Regions from separate parts of the Homo sapiens genome. Here region 2 is linked to region 1. A link means that fine-mapping ties the variant in region 1 to the expression of a gene that starts in the linked region. Tissue or cell type: whole blood. Region 1 holds a variant in brackets; the other region holds the start of a gene. All regions are shown on one strand. Distances are between the middles of the regions. Region 1 overlaps ALDH1A2 (aldehyde dehydrogenase 1 family member A2). Region 2 holds the start of AQP9 (aquaporin 9).

Evidence for each region.
Region 2: AQP9 starts here. The variant in region 1 is fine-mapped to the expression of AQP9 in whole blood (INTERVAL, PIP 0.92).

Annotation. Positions count from the first base shown.
Region 1 is chr15:58,050,918-58,056,307 of GRCh38, forward strand. All of the region lies in intron 1 of ALDH1A2 (aldehyde dehydrogenase 1 family member A2), which reads right to left. Among named protein-coding and RNA genes, the nearest start is that of ALDH1A2-AS1, 12 kb to the right of the region's middle. The variant C/T (reference allele first, on the strand shown) is at 3,344.
Region 2 is chr15:58,136,226-58,141,615 of GRCh38, forward strand. It overlaps AQP9 (aquaporin 9), which reads left to right and starts at 2,156. Exons shown (of 6, transcript NM_020980.5): 1 at 2,156-2,451. The coding sequence starts at 2,341.

The sequences.
Region 1 (5,390 bases):
ACCTCAATGCATATCCTAAGGTTGAAGAAGGCTTTGAACCAATAAATGAGTGATTTCTCCACAGGAGACTAAACATTTGCTTGTGACGGTAAACAAAATGCTGAATTTTATGTAGCACAATCATTTTTACATATCTGTTGATATAAGTAGTTAAAGAAGAATTATTGAATTTTTTTCTGTCAAATGAAAAGGTTTGCACTTGACTCAGATCTTAGCAAATAATCGTATTTAAAGAATTAAATTATTCCTTAAATGTGATGCTTCCTCTTACCCCAGGAACTGGATTATAATATTATTTGCAGTAAGTCATTCCTAAAGGACCCTGACTTAAACTGTGATGATAAACTAATAAGCCTAATTGTGCATAATTTATAGAGTTCATTTTAAAATCACATCTAACATTTTGAGAAATTTTTGTACATCTTAAACTTAATTTTCTCTTTTTATTTATTTATTTTTTTAGATAGGCAACTTCCCAGAAAAGAAAAAAAGAGGAAAGGAGACAAATGAAAAGCTCAAATTTGGTCAAGATCCCTATTTGCCATTTAAACACAACATTAGAAAACTCTTGCTAGGACTACATTTTGAAATAAACCTCATGTTGGAGGTCAGTTCTGCTAAGAAATACCACTGAAAGCTGCCACTTGACCCGGAATTCCTCTACAAGAAAAACTAGCCATAACTACATGAGAGGCCTATATGAGAAACTGCCAGAATGTCAACTTCATTTGCAGTGGCCCCATATGGCCTGATCACTCTCCCTGGCATGATAAATCACTGGCAGAATTCTTACCTTCCTACGTTTGATCTCTGCTCAGCAAGATGTGGTTTTGATGTGAAGAACTCCAGATCTCTTAGGTCAGAGACAAATAGCAGTGGCACTGACCTGCAAAGTGCTAAGTCTCTATTAGACTCAAGTGAAAAGCTGTAAGCTTCTGACAAGTTCCCTTGCCACCACGCTTCCTCACCCTCCATGGTTTTCATGAGCTTAGCTTGGCAGGAAAGCTGCTCAAATGGTCTGGAGGAGAAATGACAACAAATATTTTCTGCCTACTACTATTACAAAGTATTAAAATCAATTTTCACCAAGACTCAAAGGAGGAAGTCTCTTGGGAGTCACTGCTCTAATTTCTAATATGGTAAGTCCTTAGCAAATATGAAACATTTTGATTTCCGCTGGATCTTTATGACACTGCTAGCCACTCATTTATATAACGAGAATCATTAACAGGGATTTCTGTGGACTACTCTTTGGTAACCATGAGTACATTGTTGAGACAGTATTTTCAACAAAACTGTTTGAGTGCAAATTTTCGGCCCTAAAAAGACCACAACTAAATATGCAAGCAGTTCAGTATTGTCTTTCAGATGCCCATAATCCCAAGTTCTGGGCCCAGGAAAGTAGAGTTCTAATTAGTCAGGGTGGGGTAAAGAAATCTTATAGCTTTTCTAATCCAACACTTTTAAAAAGTAGGTGGATTAATTAATAAGCATCTCATTCTGGTCTCTCATTTTGTAAGTAACAAAGCTGTTACCAGGATTTATTTTTTATTTTTTTTATTTTTTGAGAGGGAGTCTTGCTCTGTCGCCCAGGCTGCAGTGCAGTGGCGCAATCTCGGCTCAGTGCAACCTCTGCTTCCTGTTACCAGGAAATTTAAGTGGCGTACCCAGTATCACAAAGCATTTTCATATTTCCAGGTCCCATTATAGAATAGATAATAAATGATCAAGTTATTTTGTTCATTCGCTAATTCAATAAGTATTTATTCAATGCCTGCATATCCAAGAAACTGTTAAATGAACATACATAAGTGACAGAGCTGGGGTCAGAACACGGGTCTTCTAATGCCCTGTCCAGTGCCTTGTTCACTGCTCTGCAAGGTACACTGAAAGGTTTCTATTTCAGAGGAAGGGGTAAATGCGTGGCAATGAAGCAGAAGAGTTTTCCAAAGTGGATGTGTGTATACCTTCTTTAAAGGAAGCACATGAAAGAAATTTGTTTCAAAACACTTTACCTTGGAATTCACTTTCTAGTCCTGGCATTTTAACTATTAATGACTCTGCAAATGAAATCAGACAATTTATTGTCTAGGATGTATTCATTTATTCATTCATCAAACACGAAGATGTATGGACCACACTCTGTGTCAAGGCAGCCATGATACCGGCTCTCATAAAAATTTAAGTCCAAGAAAAAAATGAGTCTACAAATTAAACAGTAATTGGATCCCTTGGAGTGACATTATAAAACACACAGTACTTAACAGTAATAATAAAGTTCGAAATAAACCTAAAATGCCACATTTAAAATGCTTCTTCTAAGAGATTTTTGTGTTCTGAAGTCATGTGTGCCTATCACTGAAAATGACAGCAGAAATACTCCAAAAATTGTAAAACTAAAATTGGTGTGGAATTTTAGTTCACTGAAATTATAAAGTGTTCCAAAAAAGCAAAAAGCATGCTATCATTTTAACAGCTGCATTATTTCAACAGTTGTCCCCTTTACACCACTCACAATTACAGACACTCACAAATAAGGCCCTCATCTCCGTAGCAATAAGTTAGTGACTTTGCAAGCATTCAGTGAAAGCAAAATGTTTGGTTTGTTTTTTGGCTAAGTGTACTTTATGTACCCCTATTTATGCATACATGCCTATACTAAATGCTGAGCAATCATCTTTCTCCTTAAATCAGATCATCAGGAGTTCCAAAAATCACTGTTTTGTGTACTTCTTTTCTACGCCCTCTCTTTTTCTCTGTTGGAATTCCTGGTAATGATACCAGAATGTGGGCAAACCTCATTAGTCTCCCTGCTGTTTACAAGACAGGATTTATGCTCAATGTGCTGAACACAATGACACACATCACTAAATAGCTACAACTACCACCCAGGCTTTAATCTCAGAAATTTTTCACTCAGTACAAATACCTATCAGCATGGAGAAACATGGAAGAGCAATTACAGCCAACACGTGTAGTCTTTTAAGAGTACACCAATAAATACCCATTTGTGAAGGTTAATTTAATGCAACCCAGGCTGTTATCTGGAATAGTATATGTCGCCAATTCAATCCATTAAGTAATTACTAAATTCTCAGGAGGGCTCCCAGAAGTCAAATGTGGTTATTCCAGGTTCATTGCTTCTGGTCTCCCAAAGGACCATTTAGGCCAACAGCTGGGAGAGCCAACTACAAAGGTTCCCAGGCATAACTAACCATTTCATGCAAACAGGTAAATGAGTCTAAACGAGAAATAAGAGTTATCAAGTGCCTGTCCTAAGAGAAACACCAAGGGAAGCAGAAGAGAAGCACAAAAGGGGAGGAATAAAAAAGGAAAGAAAAGG[C/T]ATAAGTTTGGTAAGTAAAAAAGATCTGTTCTCTCTAAAAGTGAAGTCAGAGAAATCTGGAGATTGCAAGATCTGGCTTAAAGGACACAACCTTTCAGCAGTTTCTTTAGAGAGGATTTTTCAATCATTTATAATGAAACATTAATTGTGCACCCCAAATGCCACCCCTTTGTGTTGCTGAAACTCAAAGTTTGAGTACTGCATGAATTCCTCTATTCTGCCTCCCCACTGAGATTACAGGTAACAGAGGGATCTGATAGTAATTAAGCCTTAGTAAGATGATTGCTCATAAGAGACAAGATGGAACATACCCACCCAACTCTTTCTGGCAAGCATCTCTCTCACAGAAATTATAGCCCAGTTACACAAAATGATGGCCCACTGGGGCACAGAAAGCATTAGAAAGAATGTAAAATATATTATCCTCAATAGCCTCACACATCCTCCCTCCCAAGTCAATCTTAACAGCCATAAAAAAAGAAAACACTTTTTGAATGCAAACAAAACAGATCAAATAAACAGGTGTTATTAAGGGCAGTGTGTGACTACACAACCAATGAGGATTGAAAAACATCGTTCTTTATCATAACCTAAAAAATCACATATTCCCAGGTGATGTATACCTAAAGTGTCAAATTGTATCAATTCTCTCCTTTTTTTAAATTCATACTCCCATTTTTGTCTGGTTGGAATTGTTGCTTATGATAGCTGCGGACAATACTGAGTGGAATTAGACTTAGGATCTGAATGAAATATGGGATTTGTAGTTGAGGAACTGGGCTTGGGGTTTCCTATGAAACATTCAGCAAGGCTTTAGGTTAATAGTCCAAATTGTATTGTCTTTGTAGTGGTTATTATGTTTGTCCTTATTGTTACGAGTAGGGAAGGAGGAGTATTGAGTCCTGGAATTGCCACCCACTATTGCTGTTGAGCCTGAAAAAACTAACTTTAATATGCTTGATTTTCTCACTTATAAAATGAAGATATTAATACAATATCCACATCGTAGTGTTGCCCCAAGAATTTAATGTAATCATATGTGAAAAGTACTCTGAATATTGTAGTATTAATAATAAAAGCCGTAGCTATTAAAATATAACAAGTATTCATTAAGAAAACATTCTTGAAGTTTCTACATTGTTAGACATTGAGCTAGGTACTTCAGAAACACCATGATAAATAAGAGTTTATAATCTAGTACAGTTTAGAAGTAGGGAGTTACACAGAAAAATATAATACCATGCAAAAATTGTACCACTGAGAAGTGCAAATAAGTAATATGAATGCTCAGAGAATATACATTCATTATCAAAAAATAAGTGTGTAGCCAAAATTGTCAGGTGTTATATGTAAGTATATACACAGAAGGGGTAGTTTTAGTTTTAAGGTTGGAGAATTTCACACTTCCACAATATTTTCTTTAAAATTAGAGATACACATGTATGAACCAAATCACTGATGAAATTCAAACACAAAGGTAAATATATACACCAGCTTTGGGTTTAGAACTTAAGTTAAAATGTTAACAAAATAAGAAGTAATGTTATTTTCAGACCTGGTGCTTAGGAATAATTTAAATTCTCTTCACTAACAGGATGAAGTATATTATTCTTGAATAATGTAGAGTTATTCAAAAAAAAGGTCTTTTAGAAATTCTTTTTAAATTATTTGCTACCTATCCATGTTTTCTCCAAATCTATCAGCAGCACAGAGTGAATAATTCATCAATTTATCTTGACCCTTCAAAAATGAGTGTTGTATGTGTGTGAGAGACACAGCGCGAGCGCACATGAGCAAGAGTACAACCACAGCTAATATTTAAGTACTTATTCTGTTCCAGATAATGTAAGAAAGGTAGGGAAATTAAGTCTTGACATGAATAAGTTATAATAATCATGTTACCCTAGAGTTTTATACAGTGGCCGCCTAGAGGTAAGTTTGTGGAACACAGCACTGTTCTTAGTTTAGGGAAACTAGTGTGTATTAAAACCATCAATCAAAGTAGTTTCTCCTATTTTCCCATTATAGAGAAGACCACACATTCTAG
Region 2 (5,390 bases), 85 kb after region 1:
CAAACTACCACCCAATTCTGGAATTCTGTAATACCCCCAAATGTATCTGCCTATGACCATTCCAAGCCCCCTCCAATCCCCTCTCCACCTCACAGCTCGGAGGATCTTTTCAAAACTCTAATCTGATCATGTCGTATTTCTGCTTAAACCACCTTAATGACTTACACTTTTAGCCCTAACTACCACTTACAAGGCCTAGTAAGGTCTGACCCTTGCCCACACCTCAGGGCTCATTTTGCATGCTGTACTCCTTCACTCTCTCTGGGGCCAACCACAGTAAATTTCTCTCATTCTTTGAGAGGCATCATGCTGTCCCCTACCCCTTACCCCCAAAGCCACCAAGGACTTTGTACATGCACTTTCTTCCCCACTTCATGTAGTTAATCCCATGCTTCTTTCTGATCTCAGTCCACACATGACTTCCTTGGAGAAGCCATCAGAGATCTCTCCAACAAAGTCAAATCCTTTTGCTATATTTGCTTATGGAAATATGGCCCCCATCTTTGCAGCATACATCTCAGTTGTGATTTTGTATTTATGTGTGTGGGATTATTTCACTTACATCTGTCTGCTTCACTAGACTCTAGGCTCTGTGAAGGACAAGAACCCTATGTGCTCTTGTTAAGTGCAGTGCTTGGCACATAATGAGTGTGCAGTAAATAGTTGTTAGATGAGTGAATGGGAAGACCAGAGAACGCTCTTGCATGTTATTAGCTGTAGTCACAGTAAGAAAGTCCTGTTTCTCTGGTCCATCCACTGGGACTTGGTAATGGTGTGGTCATAGGTAACTCTTCTAGACAATGGTATTTATGATAACTTCATCAGGAATTAAAGCCAAAGTGCTGAGGTTTTGTCCTGGTTCTGCAGTAGTGTGGCCTCAGGCAGGTTATAACTTTTTAAAGTCTAAATTCTAAATGTCACCTACAGATGAGAAGTCTCCTTCTGCCTTTGGCCTCTCACCAGCTGCTTTCTCCATGTCCTCTCCTCCCTCCCTTTTTGCAAAGCTAGGGGAGGGCCTGATGCAGAGCTGGCTTCCCTGTGGGAGGACTGGAAGGAACCACACAGCATGGATACTAATTCCATGAGTCCACATTGGTAATCAGAAACTAGGCCTGCCTTGCTATTTAGAAACTAATGCTATATTCTATTTCTTCAGATAAGCCAGTTTTGAAAAACAAGGCTTGAATATTTGGCAGGACAAGGAGCTACTCCCAAACACAGTTTCTTGCCAGCAAGGATGTCAATTTATCAAATTGAAAGGGTATAACCTAGGAGCCTCGGTTAGGTGTACTGGCTCCCTTTCTCGTTTGATTAGAATGACATACACGCTAATTGATCTCTTTCCGGCTCAGTCATCTCCATGCAGTAAAGAATTTCAAGCTGCTATTGTTTATTTCCTATGTATTATGTCTAAATATTTCATGGTGAATGAAGAAGAGTGACTATTTTCAAACTGGAATGCTTCTTCAGAAGAAACCCAAACTGGAATGTTTCTTCAGAAGAAACTTCAGAAGTCACCAAAAAGGTGACTCCTCCATCTTTCTGATTCTTGGATCCTAAAGTATCTTCAGCAAGTGAAGCCCAGTTTCATAACCGAAGAGGTGACTCCATCTGTCCTACAGACTTGCAGTGTGAAGCTTGCAATGGTTTCTCTGTATGTTAATTTCTCCATCTCTAGGATGGCCTATGTGGTTCTTACTAACCTCAGAGTGGTATCATGAAGCCACTGAAATGATACCAGAAGAAAACAAGAGTGATTAATCTTCTAGGATGATAAATCTATATTTTCTTCAAATTCTTCATTTTGCATAAAAACCTTTTTCAGAAAAGAATGTTAACATTGGATATATCTACACCTGATTTGACAGTTCCAAACTACACCCCAACCACCCACTTCTGAATGAGAAGAAAAAAAAATCAGAAGCCTGCAATTGTGTAACATGAAAATCTTTTCTGGACCAGGGCCCGTCACTGTGATTTGGCAACACAACTGGCACATCTCTTTTCTCATCTCTTGAAAAAAACCAACAGAGAAAAAAGTACCTTGAGAATAAAGGTAATGATTAATCTGTCAGGCACAAAAGGGATTGTTTTGGGGATTTCGGGTTCTAAGTCGCAGATTCAAACAAATAGCAGCGAACAGGGAATGACAGTTCCACCAGAAGACGATTAAGCCACAGCCTCTAATTGGAACGGCATTTGTACAGTCAGAGACTCTTACCAGACATCTCCAGGAATCTGTGAGCCATTGTCAAAACGTCCATTTTCATCTGGCTGTGAAAGTGAGGACCACAACAGGTAGGTATTGGTAGAAACAGGAGTCCTCAGAGAAGCCCCAAGATGCAGCCTGAGGGAGCAGAAAAGGGAAAAAGCTTCAAGCAGAGACTGGTCTTGAAGAGCAGCTTAGCGAAAGAAACCCTCTCTGAGTTCTTGGGCACGTTCATCTTGATTGTAAGTATTTCCTGATTTCCTACATTCAGACCCAATAATGCCTCCCTAGCTGCCAGGCTGGTAGTGGAGAGTTTTGTTTGGTTTGTTTTATTTAAGTTAATTGGGATCAGATTCATCTTTTCCAGGAAGAAACAAGTTACTAGAGGCTGTTTGACTATTTAGGGGTTGTGATATTAAGTTTTCAATTACCTATTGCATTTACCCACAAAAGTTGATGGGAATGGAAGAGAAGGAGTGAGTGAAGTGCCTTCTTTATTTCAGGTATTTACTTATACTCTAAAATGGCTTTGTGATTTAAAAGTCAGTCGTTAGTGTTTTCATTGATCAATTGATTTGTACCCTGCTTGCTTCCTCCAAGCATTGGGGTGACTCAGCCACCTGGAATAAGCATCAATAGTCAATAAATATAGTTGGCAAAAATATACATATGGATGGCAAGAAACATCTCAGTATGACAAGTACTTGACAAGTATTGTGCTGTCAGATCACTTGATTTTTAAGAAATTAAAAATTGCACTAGGTAGAAATAGTGTACCAGGCAATAGTCCAGCTTTAGTTTTGTGTCATTTTTGGTCTCTATTTAAAGCAAAGTAATCTCTAAATATCTTTGGAGATTTACAAGACAATTACAAGAACCTTCTAGATATAAACGAGGGACGACTTCTAAGAACCTCTTGAGGATTGCCCAGAGATTTACTCAGCTATTAACAAGAGACTGGAAAGTTTACTTAAGTGGTCTGGGCTTTCATTTTGCTGCACGTTCTAGCATTCTCTGTATCCTGAAGTTTTACCTGGAACCAGGCCATTTGTGAATAGAAATGTATTATCATGTGGCAACTATTGATTTCAACTGGTTTTTTTTATCCTGCTTAAGGATTTCCTACTCCAGGTATAAATAATTTCATTTTCCTTAAAGTTATAGAGAATAGCCCATAAACTCTGTGCATTAAAAGTTCTTTGCTTGGGGCAAATACATAATAATTTAGAAGAATAAGCTTGGAATGCATCAGCTAAGCCAAGAATGAGAAACAAATGTGAACTCAAAAAATTGAACTAGTGGAATGTGAAGAGAGAGTCATAAGTTTTCTGGTCTCTGAGAAACACATTAGACCAGATTCGTTACAGTATTTTCAGGGAGTTACGGACAATTTCTTGCACTCCTCATCTTCCCTTGGCATTCATTCCTGGCTGCTCTGACCACACTCACTGTCATAATGTAGCAAGACATTATGTAGTAAGACATTATGTAAGTAGTTATTTCTAACTAAAATAAAAGAAATAAAAGAGAGAAGATGAAAGTCAGTGATTCTTATGATTCCCGGTCACTGCTTACTGGAAAATCTTTCTTAGTGAGACTGAGACCCCTCTGTCATGTTACTTGACAATCTGGCCCCAAAGAAGCAGTTGTCAATACAGAGTGATTACAGCCTCACAGTGACGAGTGAGTCAGAAAAGTGAAGCAAATTCAGTTACAATTCTTAGTGCTCTGCAGAAAACAGAGGAGGAAATGAACTACACATCTTTTTTTTTTTTTTTTTGCAACCAAAAAGTTTAAAACCCTCTGTATTTCTTAAGAAGAACCTGTTTCATAATCCCGTGCTTTCTGTGTTGAAAGTGAAATTTGCTTTCAGCAGTTCACTGTTCAACTGGCCTTGTGTCTTCCCCACTATGCAAGGTAGGGGCTAAATAAAGAACATCTTGATATTGTCTGTTGAAAAATTAAAACTTGTATGTTCTGGATAAAGCCAGTCATTTCCTGAAATATTTAATTTCCATTTATACTATACATTTATTTTCTAAAGTGAACCCTAATAAAATCTGCAACCTTGATTATCATCTTCAGTTTTGTTGGAGCTTGTGGGGATGTATAAACAAAAAGTTCCTGCACAAACACAATTTTTTTAAACCAAGAAATCTACATGGTTTTGCTGAAAGTTTATCCAAAGTAATTTTCTGCTTTATTAGAGAATGTGCATTTTGCCTTGTATTTTCTAGTAAAAAGCTTTGTACATTGATAAGGCAAAGGGAAGGGGAACATCGAAAAGATGGCAGAGGATATAAAGGACTCAGTCTTTCAAATATGTGAGATTGTTTTTTTTCCGCCAACCTTGGGAGTCTGGTTCTATTTTTTTTCCCTCCTTTCAAAAACTGCTCTTATGGGGAGCATCTCAAACTAATCTAACACCATGGTATAAATTACGGGTCCCCAACACATGGGCCACGGACTGGTACAGGTGGTCCCTGGTGCTAAAAGGTTGGGAACAGTTGGTATAAAGGACTGATAAGGCCTACTGGTAGCATTAAGAGAAAAGAAGGTCCATGAAAAATTCTTTATAAACTACAACTAAAACCAACAACAATTAAGTCATAAGCCAAAAAGCTAGCTCTAATTTGGCCTTTTAGTCATTGGGATACGTAGGCCTTTCACCTTTACTAGTGTGGGGGGAAAGTTTGCAATGCAAAAGGCTGATCTCTTCCTTGGGCTGAACTTCAGAGAATCTCTAGTCATGTCTAGTCATTTCTCACAGGGACTATGCTCACTCCTACTACTCTATATATTCTCCTCTCTCTTCAAACTTTTCAGGATTCTTTGATACAGAGCTCATCTTATTGAAGATGCTGAAGTGAACAACCCAGCAAGCAGCTGTATTTCCTCCTGAGGTGGAAGGACAGCTTTCCAGGGCTGGACTTTTGAGTAGATAACATACTGTGTAGTCGGACAGATGCTGAATTCTTTTCTCACCCTGTCAAGCTTCCGCATTAGAGGTCTAACTTTTGGCATCTCTTAGAATGGAAAAAAATGCAAGTACTTCTGCTAAAAGTAGTACCCTTGATCTTTACCTTCAGTGCCCTGAAGGAAATAGAAAGAAACTATCCTGGAACACAGACTATGGAGGAAATAGGGGAGTGGGCAGTACAGGAAGGAGGAAGGAAGGACA